3 linked regions of the Homo sapiens genome follow. The protein of the gene in region 3 purifies or fractionates together with the protein of the main gene of each other region. This does not show direct contact. Each region holds a gene or a part of one and is shown on either strand. Other genes may lie near its edges.

Region 1 (3,649 bases), on a different chromosome or scaffold from region 3:
TTTCTCCCCTTTTTTTTTAAAAAAAAAAAAAAAAAAGAGAGACACAAGGTTCTGCTCTGTCACCCAGGCTGGAGTACAGTGGCACCATCTTAGCTCACTGCTGGCTCAAACTCCTGGGCTCAAGAGATCCTCCCACCTTGGCCTCCTGTGTAGCTGGACTACAGGCACACTTGTCAACACACCTAGCTTGTCTGCCTGCTTTCCTTCCCTCTCTCCCCTCTCTCCCTCCTCTCTCCTCTCTCTTCTTTCTCTTTCTCTTTCTCTTTCTCTTTCTCTTTCTCTTTCCCTTTCCCTTTCCCTTTCCCTTTCCCTTTCTCTCTCTCTTTTTCTTTTGTGGAGACGGAGTCTCATTGTGTTGCCCAGCCTGGTCTCGAACTCCTGGCCTCAAACGATCCTCCTGCCTCGGCCTTCCAGAGTGCTGGGATTACAGACATAAGCCACTGCACCAAGCCTATCTAGTCTTCTAAATATGTGTGGATGGATAGATGGGGAAACTTTAGGTATTTTTTGAAATATTTTCATAGATTTAATAGTTCTGCCCTTAATTTTGAGGATAGCTACTTTAACAATAGGATTTGAATTACAGAAGATTATATTTTAATGATAATTTTAAAGGCTTAATGAACTCACTTTCTATATTAATCTTTTAACAGATCACAGACCAGTGAGAGTTGGTTTATGTTGATCCATGGTCATAGCTTTTAATTATTAATGATGATATATGTCTATCCATGTCTGATTTTAGAGATGAAAATATGTATATTGGAACTTAAAATTTGTAATGCTTCATCTGAAGTAGTTTATTCTACACTAATAATGGAGTCATTTTAGATAGCAAGGAAGAAAAATTTCTCTAAAGATGTTAAATACTGATTAGCTAAGTTGCAGGTACTTTTTGATAACTTTAGGACTTGGGTCAAATTATCTTATACAGTTAGATATTTATTTTTAGTGGCTTTTCTCTTTAATATTTTAAATTCTGTATATTCTGAGTTTGCTTAATATTAGATTTAAACTATTTTTCTTTCTTTTTAGGGGCTTCACAAAGGTCAGAGTTCACATTCGGCAGGTCCTAATGGTGAACGACCTCTCTCTTCCACTGGGCCTTCCCAGCATCTCCAGGCAGCTGGCTCTGGTATTCAGAATCAGAACGGACATCCCACCCTGCCTAGCAATTCAGTAACACAGGGGGCTGCTCTCAATCACCTCTCCTCTCACACTGCTACCTCAGGTGGACAACAAGGCATTACCTTAACCAAAGAGAGCAAGCCTTCAGGAAACATATTGACGGTGCCTGAAACAAGCAGGCACACTGGAGAGACACCTAACAGCACTGCCAGTGTCGAGGGACTTCCTAATCATGTCCATCAGATGACGGCAGATGCTGTTTGCAGTCCTAGCCATGGAGATTCTAAGTCACCAGGTTTACTAAGTTCAGACAATCCTCAGCTCTCTGCCTTGTTGATGGGAAAAGCCAATAACAATGTGGGTACTGGAACCTGTGACAAAGTCAATAACATCCACCCAGCTGTTCATACAAAGACTGATAACTCTGTTGCCTCTTCACCATCTTCAGCCATTTCAACAGCAACACCTTCTCCAAAATCCACTGAGCAGACAACCACAAACAGTGTTACCAGCCTTAACAGCCCTCACAGTGGGCTACACACAATTAATGGAGAAGGGATGGAAGAATCTCAGAGCCCCATGAAAACAGATCTGCTTCTGGTTAACCACAAACCTAGTCCACAGATCATACCATCAATGTCTGTGTCCATATACCCCAGCTCAGCAGAAGTTCTGAAGGCATGCAGGTTAGTGTGGGAAAGTTCATCAAAGTGAAAATGTTTGACTTACTGGCATGATCAGAATGCTGAAATTTGGACCGTTTAAGATATGGGAAGTAAGCAAAAGATGGTGTAGTCATTCATCTAAGAGTTTGACAGAAGCTTTATTTTGCTTAGATGTTGTAGTCAAATCAGATGTGAGAAGTATTCCTGTAAATTGCTTATTTTGAGTGGGTGTGTCTGATTGTGCTGTTACTGCCCTCTACTGGTTACTAGGTTGTCAGCTTCAGTGTGATTGACTTCGCTCTGGGGATTTAAACAAGAGAATGGGTTAAATCATATTTGGCCAAATACAGCAAGGCTGGAAAACCCTATGGGTTTTTTTTTTTTTTTTATCAGAGCCTATTAAATGTTAGGCTAGGAATGGACCCCATCACTTATCAAGGCTAGTCTTTGCTTACAATTGAGAAAACTGGACTGTTTGAATCTAGAAGAGGTTATAAAGCAGGCAGAAGAGGAAGGAAGAGGTCAGGGGCAATGGGCAGTGGAGAGACATGACAGACTGTCAGCCATTCTGGAAGGAGCCAGACATATTCTGCTAGTCTAGGAAGGGCAGGGCCTCAGAAATTTATGAAGAAATGAACCTCCTCTGTCCCACAAAAGAAGAATCAAAGGATCAGGCAGCATCATCTTTCTCTGATATTTGGAGGACATATAGATTCTTACTGGCCTTTTCATTGTATATGACACATATATAATTTTTCTCATTTACTTGTAGTTGTTGTCCTCTATAAGTGACTAAATCTTGAATGAAATTTAGTTAACATAACTGGAACAAACAAATAATTCTGTAATATTTTCTGATACATTAAATGTTAAGTTTGAGCAGACATATAGTAGATTTTAAAAAGATCTTTTTTTGGTTGTAGATTGTCATGATATATAGAAAATAACCATTCTATAAATAGAAATTATAAACATTAGTTCTAGTTTGGCTACATTGACCATTTAATATAGCTTTTACATTTTAAAGTTCAAAACAATTCTTATTTATAGCCATATAAACCTCTTCCTGCAGTTGCTAGTACTTATATGTCTTATTTATTGTTATGTAAAAGTGTGATTATCTTTTCTGTTGTTCAGATTATTTTATTAGAAGGTATCCTGGGTCTACCGTTAAATGTTTGTCACTGACGAATGATTGAGGTGAAATTAAATTTTATTTATATATAAGTTTGCTGCTTGGGAGGGATGTGGGGTAGGAGCAATGGAGTATGGAGAAGAAATTTCAATTAATTTAAATTTATCGCTTTAATTGTGACACTAGAACTTTACTATAAATTACACTATAGTCATTTTTCTTTAAAGAGTTTGAGTGTTAAAAATACCTTTTGGTCTGTGTTTTCTTTTCTTTTCTTGTCTTTTCTTGTCTTTTCTTGTCTTTTCTTGTCTTTTTTTAAGACAGTTTCGCTCTTGTTGCCCAGGCTGGAGTGCAATGGCGCGATTTCAACTTACCGCACGCTCTGCCTCCCAGGTTCAAGCGATTCTCCTGCCTCAAGCCTCCCAAGTAGCTGGGTGGGATTACAGGCATGCAGCACCACACCTGGCTAATTTTGTATTTTTTAGTAGAGACGGGGTTTCTCCATGTTGGTCAGGCTGGTCTTGAACTCCCAACCTCAAGTGTTCCACCTGCCTCTGCCTCCCAAAGTGCTGGGATTACAGGCGTGAGCCACTGTGCCCAGCTGGTCTTTGTTTCATTTTCTATTAGTTTCTATTTCTGTTAGTTTCTATTTCATTATTTCCTGTCAAATTTTAACTATTTAGTTGTTATTCTGACATAGACTAGGGCAGAAATTACATCC
Region 2 (3,649 bases), on a different chromosome or scaffold from region 3:
TTTTAGTAGAGACGGGGTTTCACCATGTTAGCCAGGATGGTCTTGATCTCCTGACCTTGTGATCCACCCACCTCGGCCTCCCAAAGTACCTGGATTAAGGCGTGAGCCACTGCGCCCAGTCGTAATTTTTTTTATTTTTATGTTTTTATAGAGACCAGAGTCCCTCTGTGTTGCCCAGGCTGGAATGCAATGATGCAGTCATAGCTCACTGCAATTTCCAACTCCTAGGCTCAAGCAGTCCTCCTGCCTCAGCCTCCCAATTAACCAGGACTACAGATGCATGCCACCACACCCAGATGATGTTTTAATTTTTTGTAGAGAGGGGTCTCACTATGTTGCCCAGGCTGGTCTTGAACTCCTGGCCTCAAGCAATCCTCGCGCCTCAGCCTCCCAAAGCACAGGGATTCATATTAATGTTTTTTAAAAAGCACTTTTATATCCATAGCAGGTGTTTTTTCCATTTGACAGGAAAGGCCCAGACAAGTTAGCTTAATTTGTCTGGGGTTACTTGAGACCTCACTAGCAGAGCCAGGATTAGAACCCAGGTATCTCGATTCCTTGTCCGTGTTTCCTCCACTGTTTGGTTCCTATGAAATGAGTTATTGATGGTCTCTCTATTTTTTAGAGTAGGTCCAAAGTATACTCAGTTACTGAGTTTCTTTAACAAGGATTTTATAGGTTGAGTTAGAACTAGGAACTTGGAATCTCATATCTTGCTCTGCTCATGAGACTTAGAATGTCTTCCCTTCCCTCTTGGTATAATAGTTATGCTTCCCTCCCTCCTCTGATCTGAGTGTCACTTATAAGCTTTCCAGTCCCTGAGCGTGCTCTGAAAAAGTGAAACAATCTAAACATATTGGAAGGGGCAGCCTCTCCTATTTCAGTCGTTTTCCCAGAATGCTTGTTCTTACCTAGAAAACATCCACTGATGCATGGATGGATTTTCCTTTTCTCCCCCTGCCCCATCTTGTTCCCTGTGGGTGGGTGCAGAGGTGGGGGCGGGGGCTTTTTAACCAAAAGGGAGCAGAGTTGGATTATAAACAAGATCAGTAGAGGCCAAAATCCTACTCTGCCCCAGGTGTCTAGTACTAATTATCTGCTCTGGTGGTTCTACTGGGACCTTGGGCTTGAAGTATATCTGTCTTATCTGTACAACACCCAGTCGTTGTTCTGTGATTGTTGTAGGAGGCAGAGCCCCGGATGTGGACATATGTTTATCCTGCCAAGTACTCAGACATCAAGTCAGAGGATGAGCGGTGGAAGGAGGAGCGGGACCGCAAATTGAAGGAGGAAAGGAGTCGGAGTAAGGACTCTGTCCCCAAGGAAGATGGGAAGGAAAGCACAAGTAGTGACTGCAAGCTGCCCACGTCAGAGGAGTCTCGCCTTGGGAGCAAGGAGCCCCGGCCAAGTGTCCATGTGCCTGTGTCCTCCCCACTTACCCAGCACCAGTCCTACATCCCCTACATGCACGGCTATTCCTACAGTCAGTCCTACGACCCCAACCACCCCAGCTACCGGAGCATGCCTGCTGTGATGATGCAGAACTACCCAGGTACAGCACCAAGTGCCAGCACTATTCCATTCACTGGAAGGGGGAATGAAGCACAGATTTCACATCCAGAGTTTTCTTGCTCAGCCCCAAGGCATATTGAGGCTCGCTTAGATGACGGACCTTTTTTCACTGAGTCATTCTGTGAGGTGGCCACCATAACCCATAGTTCCTTGAATGACCCATAATGATAGTCTGTGTGACTACCTCTCTCTCCCTTGCTCCAGCTCAAGGATTGTCTCTGTAGTCAGTTTTCATTGCTAACTAAAGGTAAAACTCCTTCTCTGTCACTGCTGTCTCCCCTCAGCTGGAATTTGTAAACCATATACTCCACGTTTTGCAGTGTGCTAGGCACTGTGGGAGGTACAAAAGAAGTAGAGCCATTGAGTTCCTTCCACTCCCGGAGCTTACAGCTTAATCATAGTGGAGAGACACAAAGAACAAATAAAATGCAAACCATAACAATGCATGGATTCAGTTGCCAGATCATGTTCACCTGTCAAGTAAGAAGAGCCATCTGAAGTCAGACTGGGGGGAGGTCCTGCTAGATTCAGCTTGGAAAAGACAAGCTCTTTATAGTGTTTAAATGTTTTTTGTTTGTTTGTTTTTTGAGACGGAATTTCACTCTTGTTGCACAGGCTAGAGTGCAGTGGCGTGATCTCGGCTCACCACAGCCTCCACCTCCTGGGTTCAAACGATTCTCCTGCCTCAGCTTCCCAAGTAGCTAGGATTACAGGCATGTGCCACCACTCCTGGCTAATTTTGTATTTTTAGTAGAGACGGTGTTCTTCCGTGTTGGTCAGGCTGGTCTTGAACTCCCGACCTCAGGTGATCCGGCTGCCTTGGCCTCCCAAAGTGCTGAGATACAGGCATGAGCCACCGCTCCGGCCTTAAATGTTTTTTAACTTGTTAGAAGAAAATGCTCTTATTTAACTCTACTCGTTTTGTTGCCCAAAGAACCATGTGGGGTGCTTCTGGGGTGGAAGGGCACTGCTTTAGCCTCACTCCTTAGAGCCTCCAGCTTCCTACAGCAGCCTAAATAGTCTCAACATTCTGGTGACATTATTATAAAGCACACTCTAAATAGAAATAAGCTTTTCAAACAGAAATAGGAAATTTCTTACCCTTGAGGTGTTCCTTTATCCCTGTCACTCACACCCATCAATATAAAAATCATAGTTGCATTTGTTGAGTGCTCGCCCTGAGCCAGGCGCTGTCCTCTGAGATTTATAGACATTATCTTTTTTAATCCTCCCTATCACCTTAAGTAATAAGTATTGATATCTTCATTTTTGATGATGAAGAAACTGAAGCTCAAAACAGTTATTTATTTGCTCAAGGTTACCAAGCTAGTAAGTCTCAGAGTAAGGTTTTGAGCCCAAGGCTCTGACTCCAGATAAGTGTGATCTTTCCACTTTATCATATCACTTCTCCAAGATGAATCTGAGACCAGTTCAAAGAACAGTATCAGATCTATGGAAGTTGGAAGCAGGAAACAGGGCCATGTTCCTAATATCCCTTAGCTAATTTTTCCTGTAGAGCTCAGTAAAGAAAGGTCAAGCCAACAGTCTCAGCCAAAGACACTATGTTAGAAAATACCTCAGCCTGTGCCTAGGAAAGCTGATGCCCACCCAATCAAGCTCACTAAAGCAGAGTTTCCTCTACCTCTCCCATCTCTTTGACTGTTTGATTTCTCCTTCCACAGGTTCCTACCTGCCTTCCAGCTACTCTTTTTCCCCATATGGCAGCAAGGTCTCAGGTGGTGAAGATGCTGACAAGGCACGAGCCAGCCCCAGTGTGACTTGTAAATCCAGCTCAGAGTCCAAAGCCCTGGACATCTTGCAGCAGCATGCCAGTCACTACAAGAGCAAGTCTCCCACGGTAAGAAAAGTACAGTGATGCTGGCTGTTACCCAAAGACTAGTAAGGCCAGATCCAGGGTCTGGGAGAAGGTGGGCAAGTTCAGGTCCTGACCACAGTGCAGCTTGGCTGACTTGACACTGGCAGCCCCCAGGGCATCTTCTTTATTCTTAGGTATCTTGCACTTTTAGGGGTCATAAGGTGGCACCCTGGGCATCTCACTTGTGTGTGTGTGTGTGTG
Region 3 (3,749 bases):
GTGTCTGGCGACAAGTTGGAGGCATAGGGGCTCTGAGGCCACAAGGCGCCTGGGGCTGGGGTTGGGAGTGATCCTGGGCCTGGCATCAGGGTTCGGCCTAGGACTGGGTCTGGGATTGGGCCTGGGCAAGAGATGGGGGCTGGTATTGGACCGGGGATCGAGACTGACAGTGGGCCTGACATTGGGCCTAAATTCGGGGCTGGGCCTGGGACTGGGCCTGGGATCTGGGCTGGGCCTGGGATAGGGGCTGGGATTGGGCCAGGGCCTGGAGCCGGGACAGCCTTGAGGCCCTCCTGTGTTCCACACTCAGGGCCACCCCAGGTCCGGGGGAGGCTGTAGATCTTCGGTTCTGCTGCTGGGAGGACTCCCCAGGGGCCCGGCTGAGGGGAGATCCAGGAACCCCTGCCCTGCGGGAACTCAGGACCCCCAGGGAAGGAGGCAGCGGCTACAGGGACTAGGGGCGCAGCGCGGGCTCCTCGGCCTCTCTGCCCAGGGACGCGCTGGGGCTGCTGCTGGAGCCGCCGCTCCCGAGCTAGTTTGGCGCGGCGATTCTTGAACCACACCTGGGGGGCAGAGGGGACAGGGAGAAGGTGTGAAGGAGGGACTCGCGCGGCCCGGGTGAGCCGCTCGGGGGCGGCGCCGGCCTCAAAACTCTCCCGGTGTTCACCCCCACCCCGCACCCACCATATGAGGGCCCCCGGCTCCCAGGCCTGGAGAAGGGAGGGAAGAGGGAGGGGAAAGTAGGGGGAGGAGGGTGGGGTGGGAGGGGAGGAGCCGGGTCTGCCGCCCAGGTGCCCGGGGGGCCAGGGAGGGTTCCAGGGGAGGGACCGCGGGTTCTCACGGGTGCCTGAGGTCCGGGCACCGGGAGACCCCGTGGGGGACAGCCTGGGCCGATCATGTGGGCGAGTTTGGGCTAGCATAGAGTTGGAACAGGACTCAGGATGCAGCCCGGGTCTACACTGGCGGGACCCCTTGCGTGGCAGGGCGGGAGGTGGTCGGGCGGGCCAGGCCCCGGTGAGTGACAGCGGTGGGGAGGCTCCTTGGGGTGACTGGGGCGGGCGGGGTGGGGGTGGGGGTCAGACCTGCAGCTGTTGCTCCCTGAGGCTGAGCATCTCCGCCAGATTCAGTCGCTGGTCGTAGTTCGGGTACTGGTCCTTCTGAAAGTAAAATTCTAGCACTTTCTGCTGGCTTTCAGTGTAGACCGTGCGCTCCTGCCGCTGTCTCCTTGGAGGGTCCAGGGCCAGGGGAGGGCCTGGGGGTGGGAGGGAAACAGGTCACAGAAACCCCCAGGCAGCCCCCAGCCCCCCTAGGGACCCCGTCCCCTGCGCCAGGCCAGGAGCCCAGGCAGTGTGGGCTGGGGCGGCACCGCGGATAGCAGCCTGGTATCCAGACCAGACCTTGCACCTCTCTGGGCCTCAGGGTCCACATCTAGGAAATGGGCGCGATAACAGCTCCTGGGAAGGCAGGCAGCGTAGGCGCCTCACCTCGGAGCAGACGGGGCTGCCTCAGGCCTGCTCAGCCCTCCCCAGCTGCCCCGTCCCCTCCCATCCAAGGGTTATAGGGACCCTGACACTTGCAGGGGAGCCGCCACCTGCCCAGTCCTCTGCTCCACTCAACTGCATGGTTTAATTTCTTTCCTTCTTTCTTTTTCTTGGAGGGGATCTCGCTCTGTCACCCAGGCTGGAGTGCAGTGATGTGATCACGGCTCAAGTCAGCCTCCACTTCCTGGGCTCAAGGAACCCCCCGCCTTAGTCTCCCGAGTAGCTGGGACCACAGGTGTGCACCACGACCCCTGGGTAATTTTTGTATTTTTGCTAAAGACGGGTCTCCACTATGTTGGCTCGGCTGGTTTCAGAGTCCCGGGCTCAAGTGATCCTCCCACCTTGGCTTCCCAAAGAGCTGGGATCACAGGCGTGAGACTCTGCGCCCAGCTGCATGATTTTTCATTTCCCAGACACCACTAAGTTCTCCCCCGTCTGCAGGACAGGAAGCCGCCCGCACAGGCCCAGCCCTTCTCTGGCTGCCCAGATTTGCACTCTGCAGCCTCAGCCACAGGATCAGCCCAGGCCCCTCACACCTCTGTCCCTGCTCACCTTGGAGATGACCAGGGTCTTGCATCCTGAGTCCTGATCTGTTCCCAAACACAAGTGTGTACTGACAAGGGCTTGGCTCTTAAATCACTTCTCTGCTGTGCCCACCCTGGCCCACCCTGCCAGGACCCTCCGTTTCCCACCCTGCCCTGCAGTCCCGCCCCCTGGAGGAGTTGAATGGTGGATTAATCCCTCATCACTGATCAGGTACTGCCTGCTGAGCTGTGCTAGGAGCTGGGGAACCTCAGTGGACAACACAGCCTTGGTTTCACCCTCATGGGCCCTAGCCCAGGCGAGGTGGTATTCCACATGGGATCGGGGGAGTCAACATCATGACCTGTGGTTGGGGTCCCCATCTCAGGAGAGGCACCGCCAGCCAGCCCCCAGGAGTCATCCTTATTCCTTCCCAGGGCTGGGGCCCCACATGATCAATGCCAGCGAGTCTACCCACTCCTCCCGGCTCCCGGGCTGCCCGCCTTGTCCAGTCACCATCCCTCTCTCCTGGATGACCCCACAGCCTCCTCTTTGGTCCTTTGAGGCCACTCTGGCCCCTACTAGTCATTCTTGAAGTTTCCTGCTCCCCCAACCAGGAGGGGACACAGGTCTGATGGACATTTCCATGGACTGCTACTGATGTATGCAGGGGACCCATTACCTTGGTTCACACAAGTCAGGTCCCTCAGAGATGCATCTGCTGTGTCAGACCCCTGGCTGCCCTCATCTCCTCATAGCAGGACCCACATGGGTTCAGGGGTCAAGGAGATTGACAAGGCTCATGATCCAGGGAGCTAAAAATGACTCATGCAAGGCTGGGCGCGGTGACTCACGCCTGTAATCCTAGCACTTTGGGAGGCCGAGGCGGGCAGATCGCCTGAGGTCAGGAGTTTGAGACCAGCCTGGCTAACATGGCAGAACGCCGTCTCTACTAAAACTACAAAAAGAATAGCCGGGCCTGGTGGCAGGCACCTGTAATCCCAGCTACTTGGGAGGTTGAGACAAGAGAATCACTTGAACCTGAGAGGCAGAGGTTGCAGTGCAGCCTGGGTGACAGAGGGAGACTCCGGCCCCCTCCCAAAAAAAAAGAAAAAGAAATGACTCATGCAACCAATTTCAAAATTCAATAAAACGTAGACATTGTTACCACGGGCCTCGCTCATTGTTTTCACCTGCTACTTAGAGTTCTATTGTAGAAAGCAGCATCCCCAGCAATGATTCCTCATTGCACACATTGTCCGGCTTCATCTACAGGACATGCTGGGAACACAGTAGTGACCACAGAGATTTTGCACCGTGGCTATTTATTTGGCCAATAAAGACATAAGCAGATGAACAAGCTCACTGGTACTATTTTGTGAAGATAGACATTTAAATATAAGAAAGTTCTGCCGGGCGCAGTGGCTCACGCTTGTAATCCCAGCACTTTGGAAGGCCGAGGTGGGTGGATCACCTGAGGTAGGGAGTTCGAGACCAGCCTGACCAACATAGACAAACCCCATCTCTACTAAATATACAAAATTAGCTGGGCATGGTGGCACATGCCTGTAATCCCAGCTACTCGGGAGGCTGAGGCAGGAGAATTGCTTGAACCCAGGAGGTGGAGGTTGTGATGAGCCAAGATCGTGCCATTGCACCCCAGCCTGGGTAACAATAGTGAAACTC

Evidence for each region.
Region 1: the proteins of TPRX2 (region 3) and KDM6A purify together in Homo sapiens (affinity purification with mass spectrometry, with the first as the bait; one large-scale study listed by BioGRID). This does not show direct contact.
Region 2: the proteins of TPRX2 (region 3) and ZNF609 purify together in Homo sapiens (affinity purification with mass spectrometry, with the first as the bait; one large-scale study listed by BioGRID). This does not show direct contact.

What each region holds. Positions count from the first base shown.
Region 1 is NC_000023.11:45,068,544-45,072,192, forward strand, and holds part of KDM6A (lysine-specific demethylase 6A), read left to right. Parts: intron 1-1,035; coding exon 1,036-1,814; intron 1,815-3,649. UniProt on the Homo sapiens protein: Histone demethylase that specifically demethylates 'Lys-27' of histone H3, thereby playing a central role in histone code. Demethylates trimethylated and dimethylated but not monomethylated H3 'Lys-27'.
Region 2 is NC_000015.10:64,676,931-64,680,579, forward strand, and holds part of ZNF609 (zinc finger protein 609), read left to right. Parts: intron 1-1,185; coding exon 1,186-1,552; intron 1,553-3,254; coding exon 3,255-3,430; intron 3,431-3,649. UniProt on the Homo sapiens protein: Transcription factor, which activates RAG1, and possibly RAG2, transcription. Through the regulation of RAG1/2 expression, may regulate thymocyte maturation.
Region 3 is NC_000019.10:47,857,616-47,861,364, reverse strand, and holds the start of TPRX2 (tetrapeptide repeat homeobox protein 2), read right to left. Parts: upstream 2,131-3,749; 5' UTR 2,119-2,130; coding exon 2,094-2,118; intron 1,253-2,093; coding exon 1,083-1,252; intron 564-1,082; coding exon 1-563. UniProt on the Homo sapiens protein: Transcription factor expressed after fertilization required for zygotic genome activation (ZGA), a critical event in early embryonic development during which the developmental control passes from maternally provided mRNAs to the expression of the zygotic genome after fertilization.